Linked DNA regions of Homo sapiens. The protein of the gene in region 4 interacts with the protein of the main gene of each other region in a biochemical or structural test. Each region holds a gene or a part of one and is shown on either strand. Other genes may lie near its edges.

The links. Proteins that work in one complex are often made in the same cells at the same time.
Region 1: the proteins of PALS2 (region 4) and KCNB1 interact in a test that uses a peptide from one of them, tested with the Homo sapiens proteins (one large-scale study listed by IntAct).
Region 2: the proteins of PALS2 (region 4) and SCN5A interact in a test that uses a peptide from one of them, tested with the Homo sapiens proteins (one large-scale study listed by IntAct).
Region 3: the proteins of PALS2 (region 4) and USH1C interact in a test that uses a peptide from one of them, tested with the Homo sapiens proteins (one large-scale study listed by IntAct).

Annotation. Positions count from the first base shown.
Region 1 is NC_000020.11:49,475,778-49,479,803, forward strand, and holds part of KCNB1 (potassium voltage-gated channel subfamily B member 1), read right to left. Parts: intron 1-4,026. UniProt on the Homo sapiens protein: Voltage-gated potassium channel that mediates transmembrane potassium transport in excitable membranes, primarily in the brain, but also in the pancreas and cardiovascular system.
Region 2 is NC_000003.12:38,642,797-38,646,822, forward strand, and holds part of SCN5A (sodium channel protein type 5 subunit alpha), read right to left. Parts: intron 1-4,026. UniProt on the Homo sapiens protein: Pore-forming subunit of Nav1.5, a voltage-gated sodium (Nav) channel that directly mediates the depolarizing phase of action potentials in excitable membranes.
Region 3 is NC_000011.10:17,493,009-17,496,543, reverse strand, and holds the end of USH1C (harmonin), read left to right. Parts: intron 1-866; coding exon 867-975; coding exon of another isoform or gene 976-1,191; exon of another isoform or gene 1,192-2,131; intron 2,132-2,167; coding exon 2,168-2,212; 3' UTR 2,213-2,644; downstream 2,645-3,535. UniProt on the Homo sapiens protein: Anchoring/scaffolding protein that is a part of the functional network formed by USH1C, USH1G, CDH23 and MYO7A that mediates mechanotransduction in cochlear hair cells. Required for normal development and maintenance of cochlear hair cell bundles.
Region 4 is NC_000007.14:24,677,025-24,682,365, reverse strand, and holds part of PALS2 (protein PALS2), read right to left. Parts: intron 3,236-5,341; coding exon 3,033-3,235; intron 1,975-3,032; coding exon 1,846-1,974; intron 1-1,845.

The sequences.
Region 1 (4,026 bases), on a different chromosome or scaffold from region 4:
ATCTCTTAGCAGCTGGTCTCTCAGGGGATTTGAAAGGCTATGATGGGCTGTGTGATCCTCAGCAGGTCACTGGAGCATCCTGGGTCTCTGGGTTTCTTTATCCTGTGGGGATGTGGGATTTCTCAGGCACAGCTTCAACTCTGATCATGTGCTATCATCCTTCATCCTTCAGACAACCCTGTGGAGTAGGTTTTATTATCGCCCTCACTTACAGATTAGGAAATGGAAGTGATGAGAGGTGAAGCAAATTGGCCAAAGTCCACAGCTAGGACAAGGCTGGGCTGCGATTCGAAGCCAGGTCTGTGTGACCCCACAATCAGGATTCAGAATTGCTGGCATATTATCTGCCAGGATAAAAACAGGCATCTGGTTTGACCAAGCTGGGGCCAGCAAGAGCCTAAGTCGATGACTCATCACACTGAAGGGGCCCCATAGATTCTGAGTTGGTTCCCGCATTTCTTTTGATGATAATACACAGATCCTTGTGGCTCAGGTCAAGGAAGCTGGAACCTCATTACACTAGAGACGTGTAGCTGGAGCAGAGGAATTCCGTGAAAACACTAACAATCGTTGCTGCCACTTACTGAATGCTTCCCATGAGTCAGGCGCTGGGCTAGGCTCTTTACATTAGGGGCATCTCCTAACAGCTCTTCATGGTTGCCTCTGTTATAATTCTCATTTCCTAGATAAGGAAAGTGACACTCAGAGAAGGAAAGGGGCTTGCCCAAGGTCATATTCATGGTAAGCAATGGAGACAAGAAATCAACCGCATCTGTTGGACTCCAGAGCTGATTCTTAATCAAGTCTGTGATGGGAAAAATATTGACCACTGTTCCTAAAGAAAGGCCACTCTAAGCTGGGCATGATGGCTGTCACCTTTAATCCCAGTGCTTTGAGAAGCTTAGATGGGAGGATCACTTGAACCCAGGAGTTCGAGACCAGCCAGCACAATGTAGCAAAACCCTGTCTCCACAAAAAAAAATTTCTAATGTAGCCAGGAGTGATGGTGTGCACCTGTAGTCCCAGCTACTCAGGAGGCTGAGGCAGGAGGATCACTTGAGCCCAGGAGTTTGAGGTTACAGTGAGCTCTGATTGCACCACTGCACTCCAGCCTGGGTGACAGAGCAAGACCCTGTCTCTGAAAAAAGTTAAAAAATTAAAAATAAATAAATAAAGGCCACTCCCACTTTTGAATACAATAATACTTCATACTTATAAAGTACTTTCCATTTACAAATTACATTCACATCTGAAATCTCATTGAATCATCAAAAGAGCCCTGAAAGGGAGCTATGACTATTATCACCATCAGGCAGATGAATTCACTGGACCTGAGAGCTAAAATGATCCACCCAAGGTCCCAGGATTTAGAAACATAGGCTTGGGAACCAGACAAACTTGGGTTCAAACCTTGGCTCTGCAATTTTCATTCCTTTGATAAATATTTACTGAGAACCTAGCTGTGTGGGCTCAGGCAAGTGACTTCGCCTCTCAGAGCCTCCATTTCCTGTTCTGTAAAAGAGTCTTCATACCACTTATCAGATCCATTCCCTCTCTCATCTGAAAATGCCAGACACTTGCTTTCTCAGGTTCCCTCAGAGCTAGAGCATGAGCATGTGACCTGTCCTGGCCAATGGGATTTTAAAAGAAGTCTGCTAGGGTGCTCCTGGGAAAGGGTTTCCTCTCAGAAAAAAAAAGAAAGTGGGCCAGGCGCTGTGGCTCACACCTGTAATCCCATCACTATGGGAGGCCAAGGCGGGCAGATCACTTAAGGTCAGACATTTGAGACCAGCCTGGCCAACATGGTGAAACTCTGTCTCTACTAAAAACCCCAAAATTACCTAGGCATTGTGGTACATGCCTGTAATCCCAGCTACTCGGCAGGAGGCTGAGGCAGGAGAATTGCTTGAACCCAGGAGGCGGAGGTTGCAGTGAGCTGCCGAGATCATGCCACTGCACTCCAGCCTGGGCGACAGAGCAAGACTCCATTTCAAAAACAAAAGAAAGAAAGTGGAGCATAGGAGAAAATGTTTCTCTTCACGGATTAAACATCACTGAATGTACGTCTGAGGGCTGGAACTGGGCAGCCATCTTGTGATATGAAGCATCAAGCATGAGGACCAAGCCACTTGCAGGGGTTGGGGAGCAGAGGAGCAGAGAGATGAAAAGAATCTAGAATCCTGGTGGCATCATTGAGCCATTAACTCAACCTAAAACCAACTGCCTTGGAACTTCATATTATATTCAATGATGCATCTTCCTCCTTATTGAAGCTACTTTGAGTTTTCTATTCTGCTGCTTGCAGCCCAAAGCATCCCTAACTGGCATACTACCTGGTTGTATCCCTGTTGGAGGAATTTCAATGAGATAGCAGATATGAAGCACCACTAATCAGTGCTGGGCACAACAAACATAAGCTACCCTGGAAATTAGGAAGTTATCTCAGGGCTTTAATCCTGAGACTATCCCAGGGATCACAGACACTCCTGGGCTGGCAAATCAGTTCCCTGTCTCTCCTACTGAGAAAAGCCTGTCGAGTTTTCCGAGAAAGCCAAAGCCCCGTGGTAGCCCCAGCACCGCAACCCTGTCACACCAATGGGGCTGTCCCCATCTTCTAAACAAGAATCAATCACACTGCCTTTTGCCTAATGGGTTTTGATTTTCGCTCCCCTGATGGCAAAGCCTAGGGCCTGTGCTTTGGTTTGTCTCCGAGTTGCCAGAACATCCCATCAATTATTAACAGTGTCAGCTCAGTCTCCCTGGCCCTGCTGCTCTCAGAAGGAAAGGGTTTGCAGCAACTCGGCCCACCCAGCCCTAGAAAAAAGACTCTTTTCCTTAGCATTTATAACAACAATCCCCACCTGCTATGTGCTAGGCTTTGAGCAAAATTTTGACAAATGTGATTTAATGAAGACCCTGTAAGGTGAGCCTTTTATCTCCATTTTACAGGTGGAAGGTTGGGACTTGGAAAGTTGGAGAAATTAGCTAAAAGCTATGGAAGTGGGGAGTGGCACAGAACCAGATCCATCCTTGCTCTTCAGCATATGAGATATGGCCACTTTTGTATCTTACAATCACCTAGAAATGATCCTCCATTTGGTCCTGTCACTCTGTGAGTTCTAAGCAATTTCCACAGGCTTTGCTTGTTTTGACAAGCAAGGCATCCAAGCTGGGGGGATGGGTGGGGATGGGATGGGCAAGGTGCAGATGACTCAAAGGAGGCCAGAGGCACAGGGACCTGGGTTGCAGGTGGGCAGTGAGAAGGGGTGACAGGTCCCCAAACCCTGAGACACAGTGACTGACTGCTTGCTTGCTTGCTTGATTCATTCATTCGTTCATTCATTCATTCGTTCATTCATTCATTTATTCATTCCACATGCTCCTCAGTGCCAGGCACCATCATGGGTGCTGGGAATCAAGCAGTGAATCAACTCATGGTACTCACATTCTTGTGGGTGTGAAACAGAGACACACAAAGAAGGAAATATAATTTCAGATGGCGTTTAAGGCCTCTGCAGGAAAGGCATTGCATGATGCAACAGAGAGTGAGGGGAGGGAAACTGTTTAGAACAGCGGTCAAGGAAGGTCTGTATGAGGAGGGGACATGTGAGCAGGGACCTGCTCAAATGAGGAAGGGGGAGAAGGGGCTGGCCAAGGGGGAATCTGGGGAAGAGCATTCCAGGCAGCGGAAACAGCAAGTGCAAGGGTCCTGAGGTCAGATAAACTCTGGCCTGTTTATGGAACAGCAAGGCCAGTGGGGCTGGAGCCAAGTGAACCAGAGGAGATCAAAAGAGATGAGCCCAGAGAGGTCATGGGGGCCAGATTCTGCCTGGGCCTTGTATGCCAGGATGAAAAGTCTGAATTTTATTTTGAGTGTGATGGGAAACTTCTGGAGGATTTTAAGCAGATGAATAATGTGATCCAATTTACATTTTGAAAAGCTCACTTTGGCTGCTATGTGGGGAATGGATTGCAGGGGCAAAAGTGGAAGCCGGGAGACTGGGGAGGAGGCTGCGGCACTTGATC
Region 2 (4,026 bases), on a different chromosome or scaffold from region 4:
ATCTGGGGACGTGTCCTTAATTTGATCATAAAAGGCGAGGACTGGAAGGGACCTGAAGTCCAGCTATCTCTGGGGACCATAGACCCCAAGGGATCCTTAGGGAGTTGTTATCTCTCCTTCCCTCGGACTTCCTGAAACAGAAGCTCAGCAATTAGACATCTAATAGGCACCTAGGCTCCGCAAGCAAGTGGGGGCTTTCCTTGGGTTTCCAGTTTTGCTGGCAACTAGCTGTCGCTTTATTTAACTGGCAGTCTGTGCTGCATCTGACCCAGCACAGTGGTGAGGCTGTCGCTGCAAATGGCCGGCTGAGCTCCCGTGTCTTCTTCTGACCACGTCTATGAGCAGAACATGAGGAACAGAGGCTGGGGTGGGTGGTCTCTGGCCCTCAGCCTCCTTGTACCCCACACCAGCTGGTGTCCCTTGAGTGGAGCCCTGGGCTCAGTACAGAATGAATGCGGGGCTGGGGTTCTTCCTAGGAGCATGCCCAGAGGCAGCAGAGCTGCGCAGCCAAGGGCGGGCACCTTGGCTCTGAGGGGCTTGTCTGGGCCACTTTCCTGCGCTTGGCCCAGGTCGATGAGGCTGGGGCTTTGATGGCCAGGCAGGGTGCACTGATTGGGCTTGGCTGGTCCCACCCATGGTCTGATTTTTCCCCCATCTTAGATCATTTGGGGTACCTCCCAGCCAAGCCTGAGTGTAGGGGGATGGCTAATGTAGCTTGAGTACCCTGAGAACTGATTTGGTGCCTGAAGCCAGATTACCTCTCTCTGCTCTGCCAACTCTTTGAAAGCGGCCTCTTGCCTTGCACAGGCCTTCGAGGAATCAATACCTACCAGAACGGCATTTACCTTTCTCCTGGTGCCAGGAGAAGCCTCTCTCCTGTTCAAAATCCATTCCCAGAAACCACGGGGGCTCCCTGGGCAAGGGTAAGGGTGAAGTCCTGTCTGAGCTCTGCCCACTTCCCCGTGTGACCTTGAGCCTATGGGGCAGCCAGCACCAGCCTTGGCCACCCAGGGCTGTTAGGAGGCCAAGGAAAGCCCTTGGTGATGATGACAGGGGTTTCTGAGTGGACAAGAGACCCTCCTGGGCACACAGAGATGCTGCGAGAGCAGCTCCATCCCTCCACTCTGCTAATACCTCTGTGGGGACATGACTTTCCATTGCCTCCCTAGGAGATTTAAACAGAAGAAGAAACTGAAGAGGAGAGAAAGAACTGAAGCCTCAGTGCATAGACATTCTCTCCTGACAACAGGCCCAGTCACATGATCTGGGCATTCACCTCTCTGAATTCTGTGCATCCTCTGTGGAGGGGTACCAGTCCCACCTGTTCCAGGCAGTCTCGCCTGGCTGCTCTGGGCCACAATGACCTCCCACCAGGGAAGCTCAGCCCCTAAGTTCAACCTTACATTCTTCCTGTCCTGGGCGGATCTCTCCCTGGCCCTCTGAGGCGAACCTAGGAGGTCTTAAGAATTTTCACTGTCCTTTTCTGCCCCTCCAGAATAGTAAACAGAGTGAGGAATGGACAAGAGAGGTTGAGAAACTGTTCTATCAGACTCTGGCTTCGCAAATCACAACTAAATTTTATGTTGGACTTGGGGCATACCAGGTACCCCTTGGGGAAATGAAGTTGCAGGGGGAGGCTGTGGGTACCAAGCTCCCCAGCCCATGGCTGTGGCTCTTCAGGGAAGACAAGTGACGGCAGGCGGGGTGGAGAAGGTAAGATAAGTGTTAAAGAATTGATGTCAGATGGCCTCAGTGTTGTGCCAGGGGTGGTGCCTACCTCCACAAAGCCTGGTCCTGGGACTGTCCCCACACTGGGGCTCCCAGGCTCTGAGAATTGATGTGGGGTCTCTATAAATAGCGTCATTCCATATTGATCATCTTAAAAAGACACGGTATGTTCTAGGCCCACGGATAGGAGAGTTGTGTCTAAAAATAGTCTCATCCCCAGGAACCGCTGCCAGCCTGAGGCGAGTGGTGTAAGCTGTGCATAGCCGAATGGGCAGTCTGAAGGGGTGGGTCAGAAACAGAGGCACAGAACCTCTCCATCCCTACCCTATTCCCTCTGCTCCAACCCACAGAGTTTGCCCCTGCCTCAGGGCCTTTGCACTTGCAGTTCCCTCTGTAACATTCTTTCCCTAGACCTCCTCGGGCTTGGTTCTTTCATGTTATTCAGGTCTCAGTTCAGTCTCCTCCTTCAAGGGGCTTTCCCTGCCCAGCCAGTCTAGAGTCACCCCCACGTCTCTCCATCACATTGTCCTGTTGTATTTCCTTCATAGCACTAGCCCCTATCTCAAATTATCTTCTGTATGGATTGGTTTAATGGTATCTCCCTACTTGTATGTAAACTTCATAAGAACAATTGTTATAGCTTGTACACCTTCTAGAACCTTCCATGGCCCAAAGGCATGAACTCTGCCTCAGACCCCTGCATCAGGGCAGCCTGGGCTGGCAGCAGGCTGTGGGGCTCTCCCGTCCCAGGCTTCCCCTGCAGCCCTGGCCAGCCCTGTCGTGGGTCTGCTCCCCACGGGGCCCAGCCTCTGTCCACAGGCTACTCACTGGCCCTGCTTTTTCCTCTCTCTGCCTTCTTCATGTATTTAGCCGCAGGGCTTTTACTCCAGCTCCCTTCTCCCAATCCTATCACCCTGGATACCTGCCCTAGACAACTTAATCTTGTCCCTAAATACGGCTTTCTGGAACACCCTTCTCTCTGCAGAGCAAGGGCTCCCTTCCCTTTCTGCCTGCCACCCCCAGCAGGAATCACATTTCCTGCCATCAAAATCTCCCTCCCAGAGATTCACAGAAAGAGTTATTCCCTCTACCCAGGCCTTCCTGACTGCCCCCTGAACAAACAGTAACCACTACACACTTCACTGGTACGATCTTAACTCACAGACCTGCAGCCCTCACTGAGGGAAAGGCCTTCCCCCAGGCTCCTGCATGGCGATGTGCTGCACGGACACGCATGCCCACAGTGTCCACTCCAGGCTCTCCCGACAGCCCTCCCTGACCCCACCCCTCGCCAGCTCCCTTCTATCTCTCTCCTCCCTCTTCAACCATCAAACTCTTTGAAAGAGCTGTCTATACATGCTGTCTCCACGTCCTCACCTCCAGCTCGCTTCTCAACCCACTCCAAACTGGCTTCCATTCCCACCAAGTCACTCATTCATTCATTCAACAAGAACCTGTCTGTACTGGGCCCTACATTCTGCGGGCGCTGAGTGGAGTTTCTCCTACCAAGGTCACCAGCACCCTCACCATGGCTCGATCTAATGGACACTTCTTTTTAAATTATTCATTCTTTTTCTATCTATCCATGAACTTCTGAGAATGCACCTTAAGTCTCTCAGCAGAAAGAAACAGGGCACTTTCCCTCCCCCCGAGCAGGGCACTCTCCTTGCCTTCTGCAGCGCCTCCTACTCCTGGCTTTCCTCCTACCTCTCTGGCTGCTCCTTTTCAGCCTTCTCTGCAGACTTCTCCTGCTTTGATGGTTGGAGTATTTCTGGGCTCCTGACTCAGCCCCCTTCCTTCTTACCCTCTACACCACGTTAGAATCACCTGGGTGCTTCCAAAACTCCCGATGCCCAGGCCTCATCCCAGGGTCAAATGAATTAGCATGTCTAGGGCTGGAGCCTGAGCATAGGTATTTTTACTTAAAGCTTTCCAAGTGATGCTAATGTCACCAGGAGTGAGAACCCCAGGTCTGCACTCTCGCTGGGCAATCTAACTCAGTGCCACATCTCCAATGACCAACCTCTGCTGAAAGCTCTAAGTTTCCATTTCCAGCCCAGATCTCCATCCTGAACATACTTCCTACCTGGACCCTTCCCTCCAACTACCTTCTGGATGTCAGCATCTGTCCCTGGAAGTACAACAGGTTCAAATCAGAACCATGAAACATCTGTCACTTTTCCTTTGCTCTTCATCAAGCTTGCCAACCCAAATTTAACTTGCCCATTCTTCTTCTCATGGTGCGCCAGGGGGCAGCACACCTCACTTAGTGAGACATTGGAGGTGGGGAATGGGAGA
Region 3 (3,535 bases), on a different chromosome or scaffold from region 4:
ATTCTTCTCTACTATGGGGAATTGAGGCATGAGGTCTTAGACCGGGTAAGCAGAGACGTTGGGAAAAAGACTCAGGATTGTTAATTCCCCACTCAGAACTTTATCCCCTGCCCCATTATTAGATGGTTAGAAGGTGTCTGTGTCCATCCTTCACTCTCTGGAAGGTCTTCCTGATGTCTAACTGCATTCACTCATACTGTGCCTCTAGGCAGCCGGGACCACAGGCTTTTGTCCCCACGCTGTGGGATCTCCAGGGAGCTTTGGCCTAGACTGTCTCTCTCTGTGATTCCCTGTGTGTCTGTCTCTTGTGTCCTGTGGGTCTCTCTGTCTTCTCTCCTCCTCCCTCTCTGTCTTTCTTTCACCCTTTCCTTCCTTCCTGTCAACATCTTATCTGCCCCCCTCCTTCCCCTTCATCCCGGTCCCCTTTCTCTCTCACTGTCTCCTATTCTTTCTTCCTGTTTCTCTTCATCCCTGTCTCTGAGTCCCTGTTCCTCTGTCCTTGTCATTCTGCATCCATTCTTACCTCTTTGTCTGCCTTTCTCTGTTTCTCTGCCTCTGTGTGGTGTCTCACCTCCATCCTCACCTCATCCCATCACCTCCCCAGCCCTCACCCACCCACCACTCACCCACTCACTGACCATGCCCTGCCTCCCTGTCGTGGCTGGGCCTGCTTGCTCCCCGTGCCCAGCAGAATCTGAGCTCTACACATGTCTTGGAGAAACCAGGGTCTCGCAGCTCCTAATTCTGGAACCCAGGGGCTAGGCAGAACCCGAGGCAGGAGCCCAGTGAAAGGAGAAGCCCCATGGAGCTCTGCCTGGGAGTAACCAAGCCTGTTTTGTGTTTCTTGCTCTGCTCTGTATATATAGAGCTTCTCTTCCCTCCTCCGTAGCTGAAAGCCCCCAACCGGTCCGAAAGCTCCTTGAAGACCGTGCTGCCGTGCACAGACACGGGTTCCTCCTGCAGCTGGAGCCCACGGTGAATAGGCAGGCGGGCCACAGGGCCCTGTGTGTCCCTGCTGCTTGCAGTGGCCATCTGCTGCCCACGCTGTCAGCAGGTTCTTTGGACTGGCGTCTGGAGGGTACACAAGGCGCCATCCCTGAAGTGCTGCCTGGGGCCTGCTGTTGGCCACAGTGGAATTCCTCAGACTCAAAGCCCTCCCCTCAGGGAAGTGGTGCAAAGCCCAGTCTGTAGTACTTGCTTGGGACCCAGGTGTCCTGACTCATCACGGCCCTGGGACCTGCTTTGGGTCCCAAGCAGCACCCAAATGAGCAGGATGAAGCCCTGGGCAACATTCTCTGAGGGACACAGACAATGCCTCGAACCAGGCATGTGGGGCTGAAGGAGCCCACAGGAAGCCTGGCTGGAATTGCCCCCAAGAGATGTCCTCAACAGAATGTGAAAATTCCCCTTCCTGTGAATGCCAACCTCCTGGGAGCTCTTGCTCCACCATGGCCCCCACACTTGGCCAGAACCAGGGCTATTAAGAGGTTTTGAAGGCTGGTCCAAAGAACCAGGGTTGGTGGATTAGAGTTGCTCATGTCCTGTTGTGCCCTGTCATGGCCTGAGCCGTGCTTAGACCAAACGGTCTTCTCTGCCTTCTCCCTTCCTTGGCTCTGGGCTCTATCTGTGGGATATACCGTGGAACCCAGCTGTAGGATGTGTTTCTCACCCTGTGATAGGGATGTGCCCGTGGACAGAGCTGGCAGGTGGCTGTGAAACTGGTGTTTGGTGTGGCCTGAAGCCACAGATGGCAGCATCTGGGGCAGACCCAAGCCTGGACTTGACTTTTCTGTTACAACTTTCCCAAAACATTAGGGCCTCATGCTCCCAAGACACTTGGCCGGGTAGACCATGGCTTCTGGGGTGGCCTGCATGGCCCTATGTTTTCTGTTACTTGCCTTTTGCAAAGGACTCTTGCCCCTGTTCCTCCCAGTCTCCTCCTTCCCCCATCCCAGGTGTCCCTCCCGCTTTCTCCCTGGCCTCCTGTGTGCTGTGGCTGTGGCTGGTGTGTAGCCACTTGGGGCCTGCACCCAGAGGGGTCTCCAAAGGGTGGCAGGGCCTTGTGCTGCCAGAGTGGGTACTCCCCCTTGTGGGGCCTTGCTCTGGCTGGGCTGAGTGTGCACCCACAAAGCCTGTATCCACCTGGGCTGTTTCCACTTCCCTGCAGGACCTTCTTCTGAAGTCCAAAAGGGGAAACCAAATTCACCGTTAGGAAACAGTGAGCTCCGGCCCCACCTCGTGAACACAAAGCCTCGGATCAGCCTTGAGAGAGGCCACACTACACACACCAGATGGCATCCTTGGGACCTGAATCTATCACCCAGGAATCTCAAACTCCCTTTGGCCCTGAACCAGGGCCAGATAAGGAACAGCTCGGGCCACTCTTCTGAAGGCCAACGTGGAGGAAAGGGAGCAGCCAGCCATTTGGGAGAAGATCTCAAGGATCCAGACTCTCATTCCTTTCCTCTGGCCCAGTGAATTTGGTCTCTCCCAGCTCTGGGGGACTCCTTCCTTGAACCCTAATAAGACCCCACTGGAGTCTCTCTCTCTCCATCCCTCTCCTCTGCCCTCTGCTCTAATTGCTGCCAGGATTGTCACTCCAAACCTTACTCTGAGCTCATTAATAAAATAGATTTATTTTCCAGCTTATAGGAGTGAGTGTGGATTTGGGCAGCAGATTCAAGGCTGCAAATCAAAAAACCATAAGGTTTGTGGCCCCTATTCAAGGGTGATAGACAGATCCCAGTGCTGTGATCTGGGTCTGACATGAAGGGTGTGATCAAATGGCCAGGGCTGGCTTGGAGCAGAGGTTGAGAAAGCAGGAGATGGGCTGGGCTGGGCTTCAATGTCTTCTCAGCAGAGATGGTAGGAGATGAAGTCTGTGTGGCAGGGATTTTGCTCAATTCCAGAAAGCAGAGCTGAAGGCAGGAGCCCCGAAGGGTCACCTCATGATATGGGGTGCCCAGCTTCTTTCAAGAACGACACAGCCACCAATGCTTCTCCTGAGGTCACCACGACAGCATGTGAGGGAGGAAGATGGCAGGGTCCACTCCCTCCGTGGAAGCACATCCCACAGAAGCTCATGGGAAATGCAAGGGCTTGAGGCAGGAAGGCATAACTCCGGGGGCCCAGCAGGGGGAATGTCACAGTTCTTCTGGTGACAGGGACCAGGGCTGCTAGCTCTGAGGAAGAGGGTGGGGCTGTATCAGCACGACTCGCCTGACCCCGTCTCTGTTTCCCCATTCCAAATTCCTGTGGTACAATCTGATCAGGCCAAATCACCTGAGCGGGCGACCCTTGGGTTAGGGACCAGTCACAGGTCCAATCAGCTGTGGCCGGGGGTGGGGTCACATCCCACCCAACATGGCTGCTGAGGCAGCAAGGACCGTGGGCAGCAAGTCATGATCACCACCCCTACCAGAGGATGACTATGACATCTCTCCTCCCCCACCAAACCCTGGGTATGGAAAGGAAGTGGACTGGGGTCCCAAGGGAAGGCAGTCTTAGGGAGAGTGCCTCTGTGTGAGGGGACCAC
Region 4 (5,341 bases):
AGGTCTCCTTCCAGCATTCGGCTGAAGTACCAACCTGCACATTGGTACAACGACCTGAAGCTGAGAAAGAACCACCAGAAAGGATTAGAGGTACCCAGGAATGGTACCTATTCCCCCTTAGCCAGAACAGAAAATCTCATGACTCACAAGCCCTGTGGTAGGAGTACCAAATGGGTCTTGCCTTATTTGTGGGGATTAACTGGCCCTAAAATGAGAACTGCTTGGGTCTTACCTAACACATTTAAAAAGTGAGACCTGAAAAAAACAAACTATTTCCAAATAACTGCATCCTAGAACAAAGCTCACAATGTCTGGCATCCAAAGAAAGTTCCCAGGATTGCAAAGAAGCAGGAAGATATACTCATAATAAAGAGAAAAATCATTCAATCAAAACCAATCCAGAACTGACTCAAATGTTAGAACCTGCAAAGACATTAAACACTATGTTTCATACGTTCAGAAAGTAGAGACATGGATCAACTTGAAAAAGAACAAAGAAAACTAATACTACCTGATTTCATGGCATATAATCAAGTACAGTGAGGGGAAAAGGTGACAGTGGTAGGGGGAAGGGTGTGGGGAGCAGGTTACAAAGGAGCACAGGCGAATGTGTGGAGATGATGGACATGTTCATTATTTTGGTTGTAATGGCTTTCATGAGTACAAATATGTGGCCAAACTGATCAAGCTGTACATGTTAGGTAGGCACAGCTTATTATGTGTCAATTATACCTCAATTAAGCTGGCAAAAGATTTAGGTGACAATGAGTAAATTCAATGTGTTGATCTTGTTTGAATCCTTATTTGAACAAATCAACAGTAAAAAAAAAAAAAAAAAAATCTTGGAGAAACTCAAATATAGACTGCATGTAGATGATAGTAAGATACTGCTTATTAATTTTTGTTGTATTAATGGTATGTTTTAAATGTCTTTATCTCTTAGATATAAATACTGAAGTATTTACAGATGACATGATATCAAAGATTTGCTTCAAAATAATTCAAGGTGAGGAGGAAGTGGGGAGGGGTCTAATTAAAACAAGAAATTGCCACGATTATTGAAGCTAGGCGATCGGCATAGGGACTCATTTATTCCCTCTTTTGTATATATTTTTGAATTTCCATTAAGTAAAAAAGTAGACAGGAAAAAAAGGAAAAAACATGTAATAGAAACTAAACATCAGAACACCCCACTTTACCAATGATAAACCATATAATAAACATGCCTGTTAATGATCTCGGAGCCCAGTTACCCCACTAGTAAAATGAAGGCGTTCAATTAATACGCATATTTTAATATTGGTCCATTTCATTTTACAAAGGGGAACTAAACTTTTGATTTAAAATAAAGTGTACAATGATTTTCAAGTAAAAGAATACTGTTCCAGATCCTAACTACATCTAATTAATTTTCATTCTGTAGCACCTTATATAGCATGTTTATTTCATAAGCATAATTAGCTAAGAGTTGGCCAGGCACGGTGGCTCACGCCTGTAGTTCTAGCACTTTGGGAGGCCGAGGTGGGCAGATTGCCTGAGGTCAGGAGTTCAAGACCAGTCTGGCCAACATGGTGAAACCCCGTCTCTACTAAAAATACAAAAATTAGCCAGGCCTGGTAGCGCATGCCTGTAATCCCAGCTACTTGGGAGGCTGAGGCAGGAGAATCGCTTGAACCCGGGACGGGGAGGTTGCAACGAGCTGAGATCGCATCAATGCACTCCAGCCTGGGTGACAAAGCAAAACTCTGCCTCAAAAATAAATAAATAAAAATAAATTAGATAACAGTTAAACATGCTCAAAAGAAAAGGAAAGATTTTAGAAGGAAAATCGTATGGTTAGCTCACGGTCAGAAGCTTGGTAGTGATTCCTGCATCCACCACAGCCTTGTGCATGGCACGTAACGTCTCTAGCTCCGGAGCCGCAATAAATACCACATAGGGCATAAACTCTGATGTCCTCAATACTTTCAGTGCCTGTGTAAAAGAATAATTATAAGCCAATTTATACAATATTAGAACTAGAATTCTGCTACCCTTTAGTATATATCAAAGGCTGTTTGCACTTGTTCTATGAATTAAAGGACATAACTTAATACTTATCCCTGTTCTGTCCTTCTCATTCCATATAGTACTTTCTTAAAACAGTGATCCATTTATTTTGTTTTGAACTCAGTCTGTTCCTCTTGAACAAAGTATAAAACAATGATCCAAAAATCATCAAGAGTGATGTAAACTCTTTTTTATGTTAATTGTAGAATTCTGTTAATACTCAAAAAGTAGAAATAACCTCAATGTTGATTAATTGGAGAGTGGTTAAATGAATATATATTCATACTATATAGCAATTACAAAGAAAAAAAGCTCTACAGTAACTACCACAAAAAGATCTCCAAGGAATAGTTCTATTTAATAAAACCCCTGAAGAATCTATATAGAATTTTTCCATTTATGTAAAAAGAAACAACAAAAACAGAAAACCCATTACCTTATATATATTTGTATTTAAGGCATAGTGAAATGACTAGAAAGAGACATAAGAAACTATTAACAATTTTTATCTCTGAGTAGGGACGTGAGGTTGGGCTGAGTGTAGCGGAGTGGGAAGGGGTAGGTGACAGAAATATAGAGTGACAAAATGAATAGTGTAGAGGTGTGCATGTGTGTCAGGTAGGAGGGGGAGTGACTTTAATTTTTTATTCTTTATATTGCAGACTTGAGTTTTAAACTTAACATTTCTTAACACAAGCACTTATGCATTACTTGAACAGGTAAATAAATACATACTAAACTTCTATTGTAGATCTAATCACACAGTTTCTATTGCCACCCAAGCCTCTGTTGGCTAATTGTTCAGAGATTTATTTAACTAGCTATGTATACATAATAACATTCTCTATCACCCAAAGGTAATGGAGGGAGTCACCTTTCCACCCTGACAAAACAAACAACCCCAACCCAACAACCCCGACACACATGAAAAAAACTCCACAGAAAATAAAATATAAAACAGCTTTGGAATCCAAGCAGCTTACTTGTGGGTTGACATCCAGAATGCAAGTCCGTCCAGTTTGGACAACCTCAAGAATAGAATCAATTTTGGTTCCATAGAGATTTCCTTCATATTCCCCATGTTCCAAATACTTTCCAGCTTTAATATCTGCTTCCATCTCAGATCGTGACACAAACTTATATGCCTGGCCATCTTTTTCATCTTCCCTTGGTTTCCGTGAAGTAACTAAATAAAATAGTGTTGAGATTTTTGTACAAAGAAATTTTAGGGCATAAAAAATAGACTAAAATACATAGGGTGGCTTAACGTTTTTCCACTGGGTGCAGCAAACTGTAGGCTATGACCAGATCTGATCTGCTTCTTATTTTTGTAAATAAAGTTTTATTGGACCACAGCCATACTCATTTGTTTATGTATCATACATGGTTTCTTTCCCATTAAAATGGTGGTAGTAATTGTGACAGACTGTATGGACTGCGAAGCCTAAAACTTTACCATGTGGCCCTTTAATAGAAAAGTTTCTTGATACCTTAGGGGAATATTTTAAGAGGTAGTCCCCCAAATAAAATTTGTATCCAAAAATATGCTTCTTAAAATCACTTTGAAACTCAAAGTATATTTACCTAGCAGCAGAGCCTTCAATGAAGTTCTTAATTATGGTAAGTGTTTGAGGCATGTTGTGAGTGAGTATCTTTTCAACTGACCAGCACTCTCCTTCTCCTTAGGAATCTATTACATCTTTTCTTTCCACATTAACACTTCCTAACTGCCCCAAAACGTGAGCAAGCAAAGTTCACCTGTTCTTAGTTGTGATACCAATTTTGTAAAGTGCAGTTTTACCCACAAATTATCTATCTTTTATCTTACCTCAAAACCAACGCTTTTAGCTTCCTGTTTATTGATATTCCCAAATGTTAACTGTTCTATTTTATACTTCAGTGGTAGAGCTAGACGCCTCATTATTATTATGGTCTATTAACCTCCTCTCCTCTGACCTGACATATTATTTCTGGGAAAATGAGATTGAATAGCTCAAGTCAAAATTTAGAAGTAGGAGATCCTTTTGTCTGATATTTTACAGCTTTGAATACTTTCAGAGACATACAACCCTTTGCAAGTTGGTCTGTGCTAGGAACGGTTATTACCATTTTTTAAACTGTTGCAAATGTGTACTCTCTGACAACTTTGTTAACAACAGCTTTGAAGAAGAAAAGTAATTTTTGAGCGTGTTATTTCAAGCTTAGCCTTACTCTGGGCTTTGCTGGATCGGATATAAGAAGTATCCTGTTTCTATTAGCTAAGTAGTTGGAGAATAACTGATGGAATTATTAACTACACCAAACTAAACTAAGAAAGTAATCCGAATAAAAAGATGACAGTGTTTTGACTATTTCTAATAAGCCTAAGACATAGAAAACTTTTATAAGAACAAAATGAACTTCAAACTCATGCTCAAAAATAAGGGTCAAATGAGATCATTATGTATAATAGGACTCCTGTTTTCCCCTTGTTTTCTGGCTCAACCTTGAGAGTGGTCGTCTTAGACTACTGTGAAGAGTATTTATAAAGTATCTTTGAGAATCTTCAAGATGCTATGATGGCTTTTCATATTTAAAACTGTGTGATCTTTAAGGTTTCTGGAATTAGTCACCAAAGGTGTGTATAATAAAACTTCTCAATAAATGTAATCCAGCATATAAACAGAACCAAAGACAAAAACCACATGATTATCTCAATAGATGCAGAAAAGGCCTTTGACAAAATTCAACAGCCCTTCATGCTAAAAACTCTCAATAAATTAGGTATTGATGGGACGTATCTCAAAATAATAAGAGCTATCTATGACAAACCCACAGCCAATATCATACTGAATGGGCAAAAACTGGAAGCATTCCCTTTGAAAACTGGCACAAGACAGGGATGCCCTCTCTCACCACTCCTATTCAACATAGTGTTGGAAGTTCTGGCCAGGGCAATTAGGCAAGAGAAGGAAATAAAGGGTATTCAATTAGGAAAAGAGGAAGTCAAATTGTCCCTGTTTGCAGATGACGTGATTGTATATCTAGAAAACCCCATTGTCTCAGCCCAAAATCTCCTTAAGCTGATAAGCAACTTCAGCAAAGTCTCAGGATACAAAATCAATGCATAAAAATCACAAGCATTCTTATACACCAACAACAGACAGAGAGCCAAATCATGAGTGAACTCCCATTCACAATTGCTTCAAAGGAATAAAATACCTAGGAATCCAACTTACAAGGGATGTGAAGGACCTCTTCAAGGAGAACTACAAACCACTGCTCAACGAAATAAAAGAGGATACAAACAAAT